Regions from separate parts of the Homo sapiens genome. Here regions 1 and 3 are each reported to be linked to region 2. The links are microRNA targets in miRTarBase. Many come from high-throughput screens and were not tested one by one. Region 2 holds a microRNA gene; each other region holds the end of a gene's coding sequence.

What was found. The annotated mature microRNA hsa-miR-4295 reads CAGUGCAAUGUUUUCCUU and lies in region 2 at 1,353-1,370, shown strand. An mRNA with a match to its seed (bases 2 to 7 or 8) in the 3' UTR can be bound and repressed. Matches are read on the target gene's strand: a 7mer-m8 pairs with bases 2 to 8, a 7mer-A1 pairs with bases 2 to 7 and ends in A, and an 8mer does both.
Region 1: the mRNA of GRSF1 is a reported target of hsa-miR-4295. The part of its 3' UTR that is shown has no 7-base or 8-base seed match.
Region 3: the mRNA of MID1IP1 is a reported target of hsa-miR-4295. Seed matches in the 3' UTR shown: 8mer at 1,967-1,974.

The regions. Positions count from the first base shown.
Region 1 is chr4:70,821,706-70,824,705 of GRCh38, forward strand. GRSF1 (G-rich RNA sequence binding factor 1) reads right to left here. Exons shown (of 10, transcript NM_002092.4): 9 at 2,589-2,663. The coding sequence ends at 2,614. Among named protein-coding and RNA genes, the nearest start is that of GRSF1, 17 kb to the right of the region's middle.
Region 2 is chr10:112,632,828-112,636,027 of GRCh38, forward strand. It overlaps MIR4295 (microRNA 4295), which reads left to right and starts at 1,343; the gene lies at 1,343-1,427. All of the region lies in intron 5 of VTI1A (vesicle transport through interaction with t-SNAREs 1A), which reads left to right. LOC124902503 (a long non-coding RNA gene) reads left to right here. Exons shown (of 2, transcript XR_007062292.1): 2 at 1-3,200.
Region 3 is chrX:38,804,964-38,807,963 of GRCh38, reverse strand. MID1IP1 (MID1 interacting protein 1) reads right to left here. Exons shown (of 3, transcript NM_021242.6): 3 at 1,432-3,000. The coding sequence ends at 2,466. Among named protein-coding and RNA genes, the nearest start is that of MID1IP1-AS1, 2.6 kb to the right of the region's middle.

The DNA of each region.
Region 1 (3,000 bases), not on the chromosome of region 2:
TTCTGTCATCCAGGCTGGTGGAGTGCAGTGGCACCATCTCAGTCACTGCAACCTCCGCCTCCCAGATTCATGTGATTCTCCTGCCTCAGCCTTCCCAGTAGCTGGAACTACAGACATGCACCACCACACCCAGCTAATTTTTGTATTTTTAGGAGAGACAGGGTTTCGCCATTTTGGCCAGGCTGGTCTCAAACTCCTGACCTCAGGTGATCTGCCTGCCTCAGCCTCCTGAAGTAATGGGATTACTGGAGTAACCCACCATGCCTGGCCCCATGTGTTTTCAAGAAATCATTACAGGTAAGTGTCTCAAAAGAATGAGCCATTACCTGTAGAAAAGTGACTGCAATACAACAGTAATACTTACAATACCTTATGGGAAAAAAAAAAGACACCATATATTTAATCGAGGCAAGGAACATCAAGATGTATTAAGCAAATCTCACGGGTAGGTTAACACTATAAAATTATGTACTTCCTAAGGCAAAAAAAAAATGCCATTTTAGGAAAAGGAAACAGTGGCACATTAACTGTGTTTATGGATGATACACTCTGGTTTCACATGGTATCCTTTTAAAAATACCTTAAAACAGAAAATGGCTGGGCGTGGTGGCTCACACCTGTAATCCCAGCACTTTGGGAGGCTGAGGCTAGCGGATCACTGGATGTCGGGAGTTTGAGACCAGCCTGGCCAACATGGTGAAACCCCGTCTCTACTAAATATACAAAAATTAGCTGGATGTGGTAGAGAATGCCTGTAATCCTAGCTACTTGGGAGGCTGAGGCAGAAGAATCACTTGAACCCGGGAGGCAGGGGTTGCAGTGAGCTGAGATTGTGCCACTGCACTTCACCCTGGGCAAAAAGAGTGAGATTTCATATCAAAAAAAAAAAAAAAAAAAAAACAAAAGTAACCTGAGAAAATGGAAAACGTGTTTAAATTTAAGTGGGGAAAAAAAGCTAATGCAAGTCACATATCCAGTCTATTACGATTTATAGCTACTAAAGGTGGCTATTTTTTGGCAAACAGCATGATGTTGGAAATTATGCATAAAAATTCTATATGGAGATAATGCTCAAAGCTACCATATAAATCATAAGGAATTATGGCTGGGAGCAGTGGCTCACTCCTGTAATCCCAGCACTTTGGGAAGCCAAGGCAGGTAAATCACTTGAGGCCAGGAGTTAGTTCAAGATGAGCCTGGCCAACATGGTGAAACCTCATCTCTACTAAAAATACAAAAAAATTAGCCAGGCATTGTGGCGGGCACCTGCAGTCCCAGCTACTCGGGAGACTGAGGCAGGAGAATCACTTGAACCCAGGAGGCGGAGTTTGCAGTGAGCCCAGACTGCATCACTGCAATCTAGTCTGCTCAACAAAGCAAGACTCTGTCTCAAAAAAAATAAAAAGTAGGCCGGACACAGTGGCTCACGCCTGTAATCCCAGCACTTTGGGAGGCCGAGGCAGGCGGATCACCTGAGGTCAGGAGTTCAAGACCAGCCATGACCAACATGGAGAAACCCCGTCTCTACTAAAAATACAAAAATTAGCTGGGCGTGGTGGTGCATGCCTGTAATCCCAGCTACTTGGGAGGCTGAGGCAGGAGAATCTCTTGAACCCGGGAGGTGGAAGTTGCAGTGAGTGGAGATCGAGCCATTGCACTCCAGCCTGGGCAACAAGAGTGAAACTCCATCTCACAAAAAATAAATAAATAAATAAAATAAAATTTAAAAAAAATGAAAAAATATCATAATTAATTCTATTTCCCAGCAGAATTTTCTTTTTTTTTTTTTGCCCCCCACATCTGAGAAGCCAGAGCGAGAATTTTCATTCCTTATATTGACACTTCAATTATCATTAGTTTGATCTTTATTAAAAAGGAATGGTGCCAGGCGGGGTGGCTCACTCTTGTAATTCCAACACTTTGGGAGGCAAAGGCAGCAGGATCACTTAAGGCCAGAAGTTCAAGGCCAGCCTGGGCAACATAGTGAGACCCCATCTCTACAAAAAATTAAAAAATTAGGTAGGCATGGTAGTACACACCTGTAGTCCCAGCTACTTGGGAGGCTGAAGTGAGAGAATCACCTGAGCCCAGAAGGTTGAAGCTGCAGTGAGCTATGATCGCACCACTGCTAGCCTGGGCAACAGAGCAAGACCTAGTCCCTAAAAAAATTTGAAAAATAAAAAGAGAATGGTTTCTACCATATTACAAATTAGTGAGTGAATGATTATTAGTTTATCAATAGCAAATAATTTCCACAGTTGTATCTCTCTCTTTTTTTTTTTTTTTTTTGAGTCTCGCTCTGTTGCCCAGGCTGGAGTGCAGTGGCACAATCTCAGCTCACTGCAACCGCTGCCTCCCGGGTTCAAGTGATTCTCCCGCTTCAGCCTCCTGAGTAGCTGGAATTACAGGCACCCACCATCATGCTCGGTTAATTTTTGTATTTTTAGTAGAGACAGGGTTTCACCATGTTGGCCAGGCTGGCTTGAACTCCTGACCTCAGGTGGTCCGCCCACCTTGGCCTCCCAAAGTACTGGGATTACAGGTGTGAGCCACTGCACCCAGCCCACAGTATTACCTCTTAAATTTACCTTATTATCTGGAGCCCCTAGAGTCTTATTTTCCTTTTGGACATGAATTCAGGAACAGTTCAATATACCTATGATCTGAGGATAATGAGAAAGATTAGTTTTAAAAAGTTGAAAAGGTAGAAAAATATTACAGCCATTTTTCTCACAGTTCAGACAGCAACTCAAACCCTTTGCCCTTTCCTTTCCCTAATTAAAAACAAAATTTAGGCCAGACACGGTGGCTCACGCCTATTGTAATCCCAGTACTTTGGGAAGCCGAAGTGGGAGGATCACCTGAGGTAAGGAGTTCAAGCCAGCCTGGCCAATGTAGCGAAACCCCATCTCTACTAAAAATACAAAAATTAGCCAGTGTGGTGGTGGGTGCCTATAGTCCCAGCTACTCGGGAGGCTGTGGCAGGACAATCACTTGAAC
Region 2 (3,200 bases):
TTGATTGTACATGCATGTGACAGTTGTATAGGCACAAGCATGTACTTACTTAGTTGTATCTATTAGTATAGTAATGCCTGGGTATTTACAAATAGAAATACTTCTTATTTTGTTGTAAGTTATTTTCCTGTATTTATATTACAGCTAGGGCATTATATTGATTTCTTTTTTAAAAATCCTGTGTGAAATATTTGTTACAAAAAGGTGGTCTGGGCTGGGCGTGGTGGCTCATGCCAGTAATCCCAGCACTTTGGGAGGCTGAGGCGGGCAGATCACGAGGTCAGGAGTTTGAGAGCAGCCTGACCAACATGGTGAGTCCTGAGAGGAGAGGTCTGAAGGAGAGGAGAGGTCTGATGGTGATGAAAGCCACTTTTCTAGGTCTTCGGCATCATCTGGAACACATAGTGGGTCATAGAGAATTACGGGACTTACATAATAATAGTAAGAAGAAGATTAGCTCACATCCTTTGAGTACTCCGCATGTGCCAGGCACTGTGCTAAAACCCTGTAGGTTGATTCTCTGCTTTAAGCATCACCAGAAGCCTGTGAGGAAACCTCCGAATTCTCCATCTTACAGGAGAGAGCTGCTTTTTTCCTTCAAGTATAATGGAAAAGTTGTGGTCCCCAGAATTTCTGTCCTCCCTATGCTAGCACGAAGGGATAATTGATCTTCAGACATTGAAAAGAGATAGCAGGCAAAACACCGGGGCTGGAACAACACAGCAGGATACCCAGGGATCCCAAAAGGAAGTCAAAGAAGAGATTGGAGAAAAGCAGTGGTGAGGAAAAGGGCATTGCCCCCAAAAAGTAATGTCTCCCATGCAGAGAAGACTAGCATTACATAAATGTGTCACTGAGAGAGTTACCTTACCCTGACTCTGTCACCAAATTTTATTAAATGCCTCTCCTATTTCATCCTTGTTGGTGAACTTCCCAGTTCTTCTCTTATTTTATGGGCATAAGAGCTTATACTTTGCAGTTTAGTTAGTTAATTTATTTAAATAGCATTATCAAGTTGGCTCTAGACTAAAAAAAAAAAAAAGTCATGACTCACTCCAGAAAATACCATCAGTTAACAAACGGAAAAAAGGAAAAAGGATCACAGTTAACTCAGAATTATAAAACAATGGTTCTTTTAGGCTTCCTATTTTAGTGGTGTATCCAAACACCTTTTTCCCAGAGTAATAGAGCTTTCTTCCCTTTTGGTTGCAAGCATTATATGAGCAAGATTGGCCACTTTAAAAGTTTTGTTGCATCTTTACTTTCATTACTCAACCTTTATTTCTCCTCAGTCTTTATTCCATAAGAAATATGCTTCAATGGCTTATGCATTTAGAATTGACTTTGTGGAACAGTGCAATGTTTTCCTTGCCTGTGGCAAGACCACTTCGGTTCAAGGCTAAGAAACTAGACTGTTCCTACAGAGACCCTCTGGGTGACTCATCTCTTTTGAGATCCTGATTGTCCATTTTTTGGTTGGTGTTCTGGCAGCAGTGTGTGTTGCCCTGAAGGCACCCTCTCATATGGTGTTGACTACACTATGCTGTGCTATTTAATTCTTGTTTTGGATTGTGCCTCGAGTTTTAAGTCACTTGACAATACAGAAGGTTTCTTTCTCCAAAGATTATCAATATCATACCATTGCCTCTCGGTGGTTATACACACACACACAGACACACACACACATACACACACACACACACACACACACACACACACACGAATTTCATGTTTTCTTCCTTTTGAAACTAAATGTGATCTGTCTGACCTTTCTGAGGAGTCTGCTGCTTTTTCAGATTTATGTCCCTGTGACAAGGTGGTTTGGCAAGCTGTTTGTCTTAATCACTCAGCATCTCCATTAGACAAGCTGTTTAAAAATCTTCTACGTAATTATCTTTTTTGACTCTCACTCTTCCACATTCTTTTCTTTATTGTAAACTTTCTTATGACTTTTTTATATATCTGCCATGTTCTAAAAGGCATTTAAGCCTTCTTACACTGTTTTGTCTGCTTTTCATTAAGTTTGCCATCAATTTACAATCCATGCCCATTGCCTCCTTCACAATCTGAATACATAAACATGCATAATAAATAAACTCTGGGGTTGAATCCTGGACTGAGTGGCCAACATTTTTTCTGTGTCTTCCTTAACTGTTAAAATAGGCAGACAGAGGAGCATTAGAGGAGCTAATTCTAGGAGTCTCCTACGGACATTTGCCGGAGTTTTCACTGCCTTGTTGTTGCCTGTAACTGCAAAGTTCAGAAAGCTGGGGCTGGAGGTGCCTTTATTCATAATATGAGCCAGGCACTGTGCTCATTATTTGGGGGGAATAAAAGATAACACATTTCCTGCCTTCAAGCAGCTTTTACTCTGGTAAAGAGGATAATGCAGGCATGTAAATCTTGTGGAGATGAGACAGCGTGCTGAGGAATTTAAGGAGAAAGATCCCTTTGGTAAAGGCAGATGCAGAATTCATGGCAGATGTAGTGTTTTAGCAGAACCGTGAGCAGTCAGCAGGATTGTACGGATTGGAGATTGGTAGAGGCATTCCAGACAGGGAACCGCAAGGGTCAAAGCTCAGAGGTGGCCAAGTCTAGAATATATGCCAGAGAGAATTGAGAGAGAAGCCTGAAAGAGTATTTAGGCCTAAATTCTGAAAGGTTCTAAATGCTGGCTTAAACCTTGGATTTTTCTTGGTGAGCATGGCCAGAGTGGTGTTTTAGGAAGATTTTAGAAAGATCAAACAATCGAGACGTACTGATGGTTGTAGACAATGAAGACAGGGAAACCAGTTAAGAGGCTTTTGCACTGGTCTTTGTGAGAGGTTACAACAGTAGGAATGGAAAAGAAACAAGTATGAGAGATAATTCAAAGAAAGATTTGAGAAAACCCGATGACTGGTTCAAAATGGGAAGCAAAATAAAGGAAGATTCAAACTGAGTTGATATGTGTGAGTCCCAAGAGACCCACTTGATTCGCCCACATTTAGCTGATGGGAAGAGGCACATAGCAAGAAGCTGTGATTTTTATTCATGCCCACTGAATTTAAGGGATGAGTGAACTACCCAGCATGTAATAGGAAATGGGGAGTAAAACTTGGAATAGTTTTTAACAGATTAAGCATAGAAACAGAGATGATATTTAAAAACCATGAAAGTGAATGAGGATCTCAAAGGAGACTGTTTGGAGAATGTAGGAA
Region 3 (3,000 bases), not on the chromosome of region 2:
TTGCTTGTGCTAGAAATAACAGCATCTAAAGTGAAGACTTAAGAAAAAACTTAGTGGCTACTAGACTATCCTTAGGACTCTGCATTAACTCTATAATGTTATTGCTTTTTTTAAGCATATTTGTCAGAGTAGTCAATATGTTAAAACTGAACATGTATGAAAGTTGCTTAGATAAATGTAATCACTGTAAACATCAAAAAAGAGAGAAACTTGTAAAGCATTTCAGCAGTGCCTAAAGAAAATTTTAAGCCTCAAACACTTTATATATAATCTCATTTAATTCTCACTGCAACTCCATGAAGCAGTGTAGTTATTTTTATGCCTGATTACTAATGTGGCAACAGGCATGAAGTTAAATGCACACAATTAGTAGCAAGAGGATTTGCACAGTTTCTGGCTCCAAAGTCTTTGAAAGTCTTTGTGTTTCTACCATGCAGCTTTTTTCTTTTTTTCAGTTTCCTTTATTTTTTGCTTGCACTTTGATATTTTAAAGGGGACACGAGACAAGAGGCTGTATGCCTTACTTTTGGTGCTGCCTAGCTTATCTTTATACAAATTAAAGATTAACTTTCTCTGGCAACTGGCAAGCACCCATCTTGACACTTCCACATTTTTTTTCACTGCTGCTAAAAGCTGATAGACTTGAACTGCCCCTGCCCGCCAGCACCACAAAACATTTTGCTTGTTTTTTAAGACCGCTAACTTATATGTATTTTAAATTCAAGCCCTACGAGCTTAGAGAATGCCTCATGACTTCAACAAGTTGATCTGACATTTATACCCCAAAACAAATAATGAAATAAAGAATATGCAGAGCACATTCTTTTACCTTTCCCACCATCCCAGCAGAGCATCATAATGGCACCTAAGCATTCCCAAGGGCTCCACAGCAGCCTTGATCAGAACTGCTGTCCACAATTGCAGACTGGCTCACTGAAAAACTGGAAGCATTACTGGACGCCGCTCAACAAAGCTTAGCCCTTTTTGGAACTAGTGAAAGAAGTCATCGATCATGTTGTAATGCATTTAAATGTCTACTCAGATAAACATAAAAACCTGTAAGGTGTGTGCACTAGGATTAGCTGGTCTTCCCTTCTAATTTTCACTTCTCAGTAACCAAGTGAAATTTCAGCCTTGTTTTTATGCCTCAAAACACTTTAGCTTGTGCTTGAGCTTCTTAAAAAATTCAAAATGTTAATTACGCACTCCAATAAGTTAGCCAAATTGGTTGAAAGATACAATATATGTACCTTCCCAAATATTTTAAATATTTCTGAACTTTTTGTTGAGATGTATGGTCTTATCTTGGTACTGAATTAGAAATAAAGTTTGGAAGTAAATTTTGTCAGTACCTAGTTCCCAAACAAAGCTAAATACTTGCACAGATGAATATCCACCACCATGAAATACCAGAGAGAACACAAAATTTACTTTTGCTAGTAAATCAATTAAATTGATTTTTATTTAATGACGAAACCATTCATTGGCAGATTAATGAGGACCAGACGCTTGTCCAATTTAGTTGACACATTTGCTTTTTTATTTTTTAGAATATAGTCTACATCTGGATTAAAAAAAGTTTTAAATAAATTTAAGACATACAACAACAGTGGAACCCTTCATCATTCTATGTACAACACGATAGAATGTCAGTTGGTTCCATTTCGGTTAAGTCCACTTTCTCATAATAATGTTATTATTTTCACTGAGTGGCAAGCTACGTACAAGCTGGCGAAATGCCAGCTTATACACACTGGGGTGGGGGTGGGGACGGGAGTGGCACGAAAGGGATGGGGTGGGGGTGCCATAGGACTACTATACAGTGTAACAGAAAATCATTAATAAAGTAGTACCGATTACCGACAGACAGTGCTGTTTGTGCGCTTATCACAATGGAATCGCTGAAGTTTCAGAGCAAGGAGGAGATTCGAAATACTTCACACAGGGCCAATGTTACAAAAAGAAATAGTGCAAACAGGAAAACTGATGCAATCCTAGCAACGCCTGGGCCTCCACCGGCCCAACCGCAGGGCGGCGGGAGGCTACGCGCCCCGCCTTCCCCAGCACCCAGCTCCGGGCTGCTTTCCCAAGTGTGGCAACCCAGCGCCGCGCCCTGGTATGGCCCCTTCTCGGGCCCTCTCCTCCGAAAAGAACAGAAAAGAAACCCCAGGAAAGGCACAGGCTGAATGCAGGGCGTCAGCCCAGTCCCATTCCCACCAACATAGAATGCAGGCCCCCTCCCAGGAGGTTCCTTGGGCCCTCCCATCTCCGGCCACCATTTTCTTCTCTCTCACACGTGGCCCCCTCCTCCACGCAGCCCCACCGCGCCTCCTGCACGTACGCAGCCCCCCAGTTTGCAGTCTGCCCTTCCCGCCCCCCAGCCAGGAAAAAAAAAAAAAGCTTTGAGGAATGAGAGAGGGTGAGATGGGTCGAAGAAGGTGCTGGGCAGCCACGGGCGCCACGCCTCAGTGGCCCCAATTGCCGAAGCCGATCTCCTGCTTGTATCTGTTAGTGAGGATGTTGGCTTTGCGCGTGAGTTTCGAGAGCACAGTGTGCAGCCCGCGCAGGTGGTAGTGGAACTGCTGTTCCAGGTCTTCTTCGCCGGCGTCCGCACCCTCCAAGTGGCCCAGGTCCACCAGGATGTCCTTGGACTTCCAGGCACTGCCCTCCTCGCTCCCAGCCGGTGGAGGCGGCTGGTGCAGGACCCCCCACTCGATGTCGTTGCGGATGGACTTGAGAAGCACGTAGTGGCTGTACATGTCCCGAGAGGGCGCGAAAAAGCTGCCATTGGCGCTTCCCGAGTCGGGGACTGGGGGCGTGCGCTCCTCCAGGCAGCCGCCACTGCCGCCTACCTCCACGCCAACATCGTTGTCTAACCCGGGGTCAGCCAGGGGCACGTCGCGCAGCAAGCTGGGCACCATCACCGTCTGGTCCATGTTGTTCACGGCGCCAATGAAGCGATTCATGGCGTTAAAGAGCGAGTGCTTCTGGTTGTAGGTG